Regions from separate parts of the Homo sapiens genome. Here region 1 is linked to region 2. The links come from fine-mapping of genetic effects on gene expression. Tissue or cell type: whole blood. Region 2 holds a variant in brackets; the other region holds the start of a gene. All regions are shown on one strand. Distances are from middle to middle.

Region 1 (5,000 bases), 56 kb before region 2:
ATGTGAGCCAAGTTTGTTCCAAGGCAAGCTTACACGCAGGGCTTTAAACAGCTTTCTCTGCTGCTCTGCATGTCACGACATGAACTGGCTGGGCAGGAATACCTTCCTGCCTCCTAGGCATTCTTGGTTTTCCATTATATTACACACACTTCTGAAAAAAGATGTTAACTACCTAACTTACAAGTTTCTCTCCTCTTTGTTGGAGTTCAGATTAGCACCTGGGGTCAATGCAGAAACAGTGCTCGGGGACAGGTTCTATGCCCCAATCCTGGGAGAGGCGAGTCCTTGCATGGTTAGAGAACAGGGCCTCCCAAACACTAGATGAGATGATGGAAAAATTCTCCATCCAGGGCAGGCTTTTACCATATATTTTGCCTGACAGCACTGCTCAGTGATTCTGACTCTTATCAATCCACAGATATTGGAGGTGAGCCTACTCTACTTGTATATTGTAGGTTGTCCACCCTCTGGGCTTGCCAGAGCCACAGGAGATAATCCTACTACAGGCATTGTTTACTGCAGCCAATCTACTGAGTCGAGGCTTCTCGGTCATTAACCCAACCCCAGGGAGTAACTGATTAGTACCGATTTTAAAATTTAAACCTGTTCGGGAGTTTCTTGGAATGCTGACCTCTTACCTCCGCTCCCTTATACATACGAAGTTTCTGAGCCACAGGAGCCCAAAGCTACGTTGCATTGCCCAAAACAGGGACAGACCAAAGTGGCTTTTTCCACTTGAAACTAAATACTAAGAATGAAGAGGTCGGCTCTCGGGGGTCCCGGTTAAGCAGTTTCTCTGCCAACCCACAGCTGTCACTTGTGGCTTGTCTCCTGGCCTCCTTTCAGGTGTCCTGGCCTGAATCTGCTGTTAGGACAGAAAAAAAGTCCCTGGACGGGTCATATCCTCTGTAATCTGGCAGGAAAGCTAAAATTTGCGTGCTCCCATTCCTCGTTGTGTTTGTGTATCTGCTTCCTTGTTGGGAAGAGCCTACATCACAGTGTCCGGTGTAGGGGATTTTCACCATGACCTCACCCTCCTGCTGCCACTCGCTAATTCCGGCGCGGCCAAGCGTCCCTGAAGTCACATCACAGCCCAGGTGGAATGCACGAGTGAGCCATTAAATGCCCCTGGTAGCACGTCTCAAGTGAACATCAACTCCAGTTCTTTCCCCTCACAGAGAGCCCTGGTAGGGGTCTGAAAATGCCAGAAAGAGCTGGAAGTGGGGGTGGACGACGTCTGGTTACCGTTCTGGGATTCGGAGACTAGAAGGTCAAGGGAGTCACTTTAAGAAAACACACCAGGCCTGGGCCTGGTGGCTCTGTCTGGAATCCCCGCACTGTGGGAGGCCGAGGCTAGAGGATCGCTTGAGCTCAGGAGTTCGAGACCAGCCTGGGCAACATAGGGGGGAGCCCCTGTATCTAAAAATAAATACAAAAAATTTAGCCGGGTATGATGGCACACGCCTGTACTCCCAGCTACTCGGGAGGCTGAGGCGGAAGGATGGCTTGAACCTGGGAGGCGGAGGTTGCAGTGAGTCGAGATCGAGCCAATGCACTCCAGCCTGGGCGACAGGGTGAGACTCCGTCTCAAAAGAGAAAAAATAAAATGAAATAAAGAAAATGCACCAAAGGCCTGCCAGGCTCACGCCGGCTGTTCTGTTCGAATAACTTTCGAGTCCGTGGCCTCGAAATGGGTCGGGTGGGCGGTGACAGCGGGCAGCGGGCGCGCAACGCGGGAGAAAGGGAGGCTAAGTGGGAGCCCAAAGAACCGCGTCCGGGACCTGGTCTCCGGCCTCCCGGCCTTGGGGAAGGAGCCCTTCTGCCCACAAGTGGGCTCAGGCCATGAAAGGGAAACAGAAAGTCGGGCTCCCCAGCCTGGCCCACGTGACCGCGGTTCCTCAGCCCTCCCCGCGCGCCCGGCCGCGGCTGCGGGCGCGGGCACCCGAGCGACACATCGAGCTCGTGACTCGCCGCCCAGGGCGGGAGGCGGAGAAGCGGCCGCGGCGTGCGAGCGCGCCTCCGGGAGGCAGCGGGAGCGCGCACGCTCCGGGGCCACCGCCCCTCCGGGGCCGGGCCCGCCCTCCTTCCCTCCCTCCCTCCCCCGCTGTCCTGGCCCGCCCTGCCCGGCCCGCCCTGCGAGTCAGTTCGCTGGTTCCCTCCCTCCCTGGGCGCGCTCGGGCCGCCGCCGCGCTCCCCGCCCTCGAGCCTCGGTGCCGGAGCCGCCCGCCGCCGGAGGAGGAGGTGGAGGGAGCCGGAGGGGCCCGCCGAGGCGGCGGCGGCGGCGGCAAGATGGCGGACTTCCTGCCGTCGCGGTCCGTGCTGTCCGTGTGCTTCCCCGGCTGCCTGCTGACGAGTGGCGAGGCCGAGCAGCAACGCAAGTCCAAGGAGATCGACAAATGCCTGTCTCGGGAAAAGACCTATGTGAAGCGGCTGGTGAAGATCCTGCTGCTGGGCGCGGGCGAGAGCGGCAAGTCCACCTTCCTGAAGCAGATGCGGATCATCCACGGGCAGGACTTCGACCAGCGCGCGCGCGAGGAGTTCCGCCCCACCATCTACAGCAACGTGATCAAAGGTGCCGGGCCGGGAATGGGGGCCGGGGGTTAAGGGCAGGGGGGCTGGGGCGGCGGCGGGTGCGGGGCGGGGCACCGCCCTGGTCCGCTGTGTCGCTGGCGAAGGAACGGGCCCGGCGGGCGGGCTGGCGGGAAGGGGGCGCGCCCCGGCAACTGGCCCTGCCCGCCCGGGGTGCCCTCGCGCCCCAGGGCGAGAGGATGCTCGGGGTCGCCCTGCTCTCCCGCTTGTCTCCCCGGTGGGCGTCACGGCCATTCCCCCACCCCCCACCGCGTCCTGGTCTCTCCCCCTGCGAGAGGGAAGTGGGGCGAGCTGGGTGCTGCCTCGGGGTGTGGGCAGACCTCTCCTGTCCTCCCCGCTGCGGATGAGGCAGGAACACCAATAGCAGCCCTAGCCGCTTCACCCCCATCCCCTGCTCGGGCGATGTGGGCCGAACCTCGCTACCCTGGCTGGGTGACCCGAGTCACATGGGGTCGCATGCGCTCCCAACTCCCTGCTTCCTTGGCCGTCTCCTAAGCAAGCGAGTTCTGGAACCGTCGCAATAAGGGAACTTTTTGCCCGAGACTTCTTGTCAAGGGCGTAGGGTGACAGCCTCCTTTTGGGCGAGAATATGAAACTTGAGGAGTGTCAGGTTGACTGTACTGGAATCAGGAGAGAGTGGACCCATACAGTTAGCATGAAAATGTAGCATCTGTGCTTTTTCGCCCCAGTGTCACGGTCAGGTAGGATGTTTGCGTGTGATTTCTGTGCAACACGTTCCACTCTCCTTTTCGCTAAGTAACTGGGGGCTGGCAGGAAGGGAGTACCACTGCTTCTATTTAGATGAAATGTAGTAGTAAGAAGACTGGCCTAAAAGTCATGTGGATCCTGTACAGATGGAGACAATGAATGAGTGTTGAGTTAGATAATTGGCTCGGCTCTTTATTGACAGTAGTTTTAAAATTAAACTTTGTTCTTAAGTGAAAAATAAACAAGTTGTTTATTTCTGGGCATTCAAAGAAATCGAAAAGATGGTTTTTATTTTGTCATTTGAAAGATAATTAACACTCGTTTCTGCGTGTCAAGTATGTTCTATAGAAAAGGCATTTTGGCAAAATTTAGGTGCAGCGCCTGGTAACTCAGGTGCATCTGGATTTTATTTTATCTGGGGAGCAGTTTAGGAGTTTGCTACAGATTGCAGGTCTTTTTAAGTGGGATTTTTGTTCAGGAAGTACATAAGGGACTTCTGCATGTCACCCCCCCGCCCCCTCCCCGCCAACCGCCTCCCGAGCTTCCAGCGTTTGGGTAAAGGAAAACTGCCTGAAGAGCCAGGCATTATGGAGTAATGAATTAGAGAGAATCACTAGACCACAGCCAGCTCTAGCCCTAGTACCTCTGCAGTTAAACTATAAAGAACAGTTGTATTTATCCTGCTGTAATGTTTAGCTCAAAACTAATTAAGGTCTCTTTCAAGGCTGCAGACTCTGCCTTGACAGTCCTTAATTGAAGGTACCTTTGTAACCTGATGCAGCTGAACTTAAGGAATTATGTTAATGAATAGCATCAACATGTTAACTGACTGTGAGCCTGGTAAACACCTCGTTCTTAATGTACACTGAGTTGTAAGTGTGATCTACGTTGAGCATTGATTATGAGATGATGTAAGTCATCAGGAATCTAGTTTTTTCAAGTTGACATGAAATTTGACAGTAGAACAGTTTCTCAGGCTGGGCGTGGTGGCTCACTCCTGCAATCCCAGCACTTTGGGAGGCCAAAGTGGGAGGATGGCTTGAGCCCAGGAGTTCCAGACCAGCTGGGCTACATAGCCAGACCTCGTCTCTATTAAAAAACAAAAACAAAAAAACCCCACCCGTTTTTCAGTTATTCAGATGACTTCCTAATAGCCAAGTGACTGTTCAGATTGATCAAACTTAATAAAAGTAATAGATCAGTGATAGGAAAAATGAGTTTCAACTAACCTCTGTGAGTTGGAGTCCGACTTTGTATTATTTTGCAGTTGATCTTCCTCCCTTTTAGGGAAATTGAAGGCCATCCTGTAACTTAAACTGGATTGAAACTTGGGCTGGAAGAAGTTTTTAAATTTTGAATGTGTTGCTAGAAGACTCAATGTTGGGTTAGGGTGCCGAAGCAACAAACAGAACATGGAGCTATAGTAGTTGGTTCTTAGTGTTTCATAAATGAACATCTTTTAGGCTCATAAAACCTTGGTTGTGTCTGTTTTCTTCTGAGCTTGGACATTGTTGGTCTGTGCAGCATAACTTCTTTTTCTTTCTTGAGTTAGATTGTTTTTTGACTACCTTCTATCCTAGAAGTTATTTTATAAATTGGAACATGTTAAAAATCCTTCAGAGAGAGGAATTGTGCTAATAGTATTTGCTTTTCAAGGCTCTAATTTTAAGACAGTGAGCAACTGTTATTTTTTTTAACCTCTG
Region 2 (5,260 bases):
ACCTCAGCCCCACAAAGTGTTAGGATTACAAGCATGAGCCACTGTGCCCAGCCTTTTTTTTTTTTTCTTCTTTTTTTTTGAGGCACAGTCTCGCTCTGTCACCCAGGGTGGATTGCAGAAGCAGGATCACAATTCGCTGCAGTCTTGACCTCCTGGGCTCAAGTGATGTTCCTGCCTCAGCCTCCCAAGTAGCTAGGACCACAGGTGCGTGCCACTGTGCCCAATTATTATTATTATTTTTTTTTTGTAGAGTCAGGGTCTCACTGTGTTGCCCAGCCTGGCAGGGATACTTTTGTGGAAGAGAAGGTGTTTGGGCTGGGGCTTTAAAGATGTCTTAAATTTACCTAGACCTAACACGCAGGAAAGGCTGCATGCCAGATGGTGGAACATTGTGTCAGTAAGAAAGCCGGGAGTTCTTTCATTATCTAGCTTTGATCGAGCACCTTTCACTGATAGCCTTCTGTAAGGTGATGAGGGTAAGGAGGAGAAACAGTTCCCTGATCCCCACCCCCAAAAGTTCACTGTTTAGTAAGGGGAACAAAAATATGAAAGACTATGATAAAAGATGAGTCAGACACAGGTATGGAAGGGAGTCCTAGACAGAGGGTACCGCATGTGCGAAGGCACTGAGGTGTGTGGGGCTTACAAGTTGGGTAGCAGCAAGAACCCTAACCAGTTGGAAGATAGAAAGGTGGTGGATGAGTAGCAAGAGGTAAAGCTGAGTAAATGAGCAGTGAACATGTCATGGAGGTCCTCACGTGCCAGATCAACACCGTTGGCTTTTATCCCATGGGCATGAAAAACCAGTAAGCATTATAAGAAGTGGAATGGGGCCGAGTGCAATGGCTCACGTCTGTCATCCCAGCACTTTGGGAGGCCAAGGCAGGCAGATCACTTGAGGTCAGGAGTTCAAGACCAGCCTGGCCAACACAGTGAAACCCCATCTCTACTAAAAATACAAAAATTAGCCAGGCATGGTGGCGCATGCCTGTAATCCCAGCTACTTGGGAGGCTGGGGTGAGAGAATCACTTGAACCTGAGAGGCGGAGGTTGCAGTGAGCTGAAATCACGCCACTGCACTCCAGCCTGGGCATCAGAGCAAGACTCTGTCAAAAAAAAAAAAAAAAATTAGCCGGGCATGGCACACTCCTGTAATCCCAGCTACTAAGGAGGCTGAGGCAGGAGAATCGTTTGAACCTGGGAGGTGGTTGCAATGAGCTGAGTTCGCACCACGACACTCCAGACTAGGTGACAGAGTAAGACTCCATCTCAAAAAAAAAAAGAAAAAGAAAAAGAAAAACAAGAGGCAGAACGACATGACCTCAGCGGTATTACAGTAATCCCAGTGAGGGTGACAACTGGCCGGAGGCAAGAACTGAAGTGAGGGCTGCTGAGGTACAGGAAAAGCAAGATACCTGAGCTTATACATTAGCAATGGAATTGGAAGGAGGTGAATGAAAAGGATACTTCAGGCAGAAAACTGGACAGAGCACTTGGAAGCAGCAGGTGGAGGGAAGAGGGTGAAACCCAGCAGGCTGCCCAGGTTTCTGGTGGAGCAACTGGATGGAGCCATTCCTGAAATAGGACGTCTGGGGGAAGAAACAGACTTGGGTGGGCCAGGTAGGCTCTGAGGGACATGCTGAGTCTGAGGTCCCTTTGGGGCATCTAACTGCAGCTGGATCTACAGGTCTCAAGCTCAGTGGAGAGGTCTGATTGATAAAAGTGCAGAATGTAAGCTACAAGCACAGTGGCTGAAGCTGTGGGTTGTAGGGAGATGGTTCTAGGGCAGTGGTCCCCAACCTTTTTGGCACCAGGGACCGGTTTTGTGGAAGACAATTTTTCCACGGACCAAGTGGGGATAGTGGGTTTGGGATGATTAAAGCATGTTACATTTATTGTGCACTTTATTTCTATTATTATTGCACTGTAATATATAATGAAATAATTATACAACTCACCATAATGTAGAATCAGTGGGAGCAGTGAGTTTGTTTTCCTGCAACTAGATAGTCCCATCTGGGGTTGATGGGAGACAGTGACGGATCATCGAGCATTAGATTCTAATATGGAGTGCTCAATCTCGATTCCTCAAATGCACAGTTCACAATAGGGTTTGCGCTCCTATGAAAATCTAATGCCACCGCTGATCTGACAGGAGGCGGAGCTCACGGTAATGCGAGCAATGGGGAGCGCCTGTAAATTCAGAGGAAGCTTCCCTCATTCACCCACTGCTCACCTCCTGCTTGTGTGGCCCAGTTCCTAACAAACCATGGACCAATACTGGTCTGTGGCCCAGAGGTTGGGGACCCCTGTCCTAGGGGACTGACTGCCTAGAGTCAGGAGAGAAGTGGGCTAGCAGGAAACCTTGGCTTCAAGAGGAGGACAGAGAACTGTCCAAGTAGGAGCATCAGAAAGGCGTGTGCTCTCGGAGGGAGGGGTATCAAGGAAGCCAAGGAGGAAATCGAGGAAGAGAGAGAGACAGAGACAGAGAAATAAAGCAAGTGGTAAGATATTAATTGTCCATTATTCTGTTCTTAGGTGTTCCTGATTCTCTTCTTTCAAATTTTGTGTATGTTTGAAACTTCTCATCATAAAAAGTCAGAAAGAATAAAGAGATCATACCCTCATTGGGGAAATGTTGTAAACATAATCAGTTTCAAAGCCTGGGCTTGAGTAGGGTCCACACCAGAAGGCAAGAAGGACTGAGTTATGCTGGATCCATGACATCAAGATCTTTCATCTCAGCCAGAAGCCCCTCGTGGCCTCATTATAATGAAGCCCTGCGGGGCAGCGCTTTCTTGCCAGCCTTACTGTGCTCCATTTCTTTAATGGCCTTTTTGCTCAACAATACAAGAGATCCAAACTGCTATTCCAGCATAAGACATAACTCACTACATTTTCTCACTCAAGCTTTCAACTCTAACTAATGGATTTTCTTTTCTTTTTTTCTTTTTTTTGAG[A/G]TGGAGTTTCACTCTTGTTGCCCAGGCTGCAGTGCAGTGGCATGATCTCAGCTCACTGCAACCTCTGCCTCTCGGGTTCAAGTGATTCTCCTGCCTTGGCCTCCCAAGTAGCTGGGATTACAGGTGCCCACCACCATGCCCAGCTAAATTTTTGTTTGTTTTGAGATGGAGTCTCGCTCTGTCACCCAGGCTGGAGTGCAGTGGCGCAATCTCAGCTCACTGCAGCTTCCGCCTCCCGGGTTCAAGCGGTTCTCCTGCCTTGGCCTCCTGAGTAGCTGGGATTACAGGCGTGTGCCACCACGCCCAGCTAATTTTTGTATTTTTAGTAGAGATGAAGTTTCATTATGTTGGCCAGACTGGACCATGTTGGCCAGGCTGGTAATTCCTCTATTTTTAGTAGAGACGGGGTTTTGCCGTGTTGGCCAGGCTGGTAATTTCTCTATTTTTAGTAGAGATGGGGTTTTGCCATGTTGGCCAGGCTGGTCTCGAACTCCTGACCTCAGGTGATCCACCAGCCTCAGCCACCCGAAGTGCTGGGATTACAGGCATGAGCCACCGTGCCCGCTAATGGATTTTCTAGAGAATTGCTGTGCTGCTTTTTTCTTTCGTTTTGTAAGATTCTTTAAGGAATGAGAGTAGGGTGCTTCTGTGATCAGTAAGCAAGAACATGGGCTTTAACATAAGATGGACTTGGATTCAAATCCAGGCTTCTGTGTTTCCTGAGCTGTGTGGCCTTAGGCAAATGCCAGCCCCTCTGCGTGTCGCTTGCCTTACCTATAACACCTATGCGGCAGGTTCAGTTTAACATCAAATGCAGAAAGTGCTGCAGTGCCAGGCATGGGATAGGAATTGGGGGTAGCTGTTTTTTCTTTTTCCTAGAGACAGGGTCTCACTCTGTTGCCCAGGCTGGTGTACACTGGTGCAGTCATAGCTCACTGCAGCCTCCTGGGCTCAAATAATCTTCCAGTCTCAGCCTCCCGAGGAGTTAGGACTACAGGTGCTTGTGACAACATCTGGTTAATTTTTTAAAATTTTCTTAGAGTGGGGGTCTTCCTATGTTGCCCAGGCTGAGGGGCAGCTATTTTTATTTTTATCTACTTCTTCACTCCCTTTGCTTTGCCTTCCTTCTTTCCTCTTTCTCTATCATCCTCTTCGTTTCATTTGGGTTTTGCCTTGGCAATTTTCCCCCAAAGAAACTGGAAACCAGGCTGGGCATGGTGACTCACACATGACACTTTGGGAGGCCGAGGCGGGTGGATCAACTGAAGTTGGGAGTTCAAGACCAGCTTGGCTAATATGGTGAAACCCCGTTTCTACTAAAAAAAAAAAAAAATACAAAAATTAGCCGGGCATGCTGGTTTGCACCTGTAATCCCGGCTACTCAGGAGGCTGAGGCAGGAGAATCGCTTGAACTCGGGAGGCGGAGGTTGCAGTGAGCCAGGATGGAGCCACTGCACTCCAGCCTGGGTGAAGGGAGACACTCTGTCTCAAAAAAAAATAATAAAATAAAATAAACTGGAAACAAATGTGTGAAATTGTTGGGCTGTAGCATCACCTTTGCCACCCTGCAGTGATAGTGGAGCTAAAAGTCCCCTGAGAGAGGAGTCGTGTTGATGGTGGTTGAAGTGGGAGGGTGGAAATGGAGAAGTTCAGCCTTATATTAATAGGATCTGTAAGTAAAATTCACAAGCACCCCAACTGTGTGGTTGGCTGAGCATCACAGGTGTAAATTATTATTAACTCCATGCCCAACAGAATTCAGCTCTCCTCTATTTTTACTATAGGAAAACACACAATAGCCGTGTATTTTAATTTTTTTTCTTCTTCCGTCTGTGACTCGAGCCAAAGAGCAATAGCTGTTTTTTAAAGTTAGCATTGTGTTCAGGCATATAGTAAACATCCCTCAGTGGTGAGTGTTTTAACATTCTTTACTTTTCTCTTTTTTTGGGGTGGGGGGACAGAGTCTCACTCTGTTGCCCAGTCTGGAGTGCAGTGGTGTGATCTTGGCTCACTGCAACCTCCGCCTCCCAGGTCCAAGCTTCAGCCTCCCGAGTAGCTGGGATTACAGGTGCCCGCCACCATGCCCAGCTCATTTTTGTATTTTTTTAGGAGAGATGAAATTTCGCCATGCTGGCCAGGCAGGTCTTGAACTCCTGGCCTCAAGTGATCCGCCCACCTTGGCCTCCCAAAGTGCTGGGATTACAGCATGAGCCACTGTGCCCGGCCTTAACGTTCATTTTTCAACACGTAAATTCAGGCAAGATTAATAGAAAGAAAATGGGGTCCCAGATTGCCTCACC

The links. PIP is the estimated chance that this variant, and not a neighbour inherited with it, causes the effect.
Region 1: it holds the start of GNA13, and the variant in region 2 is fine-mapped to the expression of GNA13 in whole blood (INTERVAL, PIP above 0.99).

What each region holds. Positions count from the first base shown.
Region 1 is chr17:65,053,883-65,058,882 of GRCh38, reverse strand. GNA13 (G protein subunit alpha 13) reads left to right here and starts at 2,143. Exons shown (of 4, transcript NM_006572.6): 1 at 2,143-2,572. The coding sequence starts at 2,290. RefSeq lists silencers at 1,856-2,365, 2,646-2,905.
Region 2 is chr17:64,997,952-65,003,211 of GRCh38, reverse strand. It overlaps LOC124904044 (a long non-coding RNA gene), which reads left to right and starts at 5,163. Exons shown (of 2, transcript XR_007065877.1): 1 at 5,163-5,260. The variant A/G (reference allele first, on the strand shown) is at 2,961.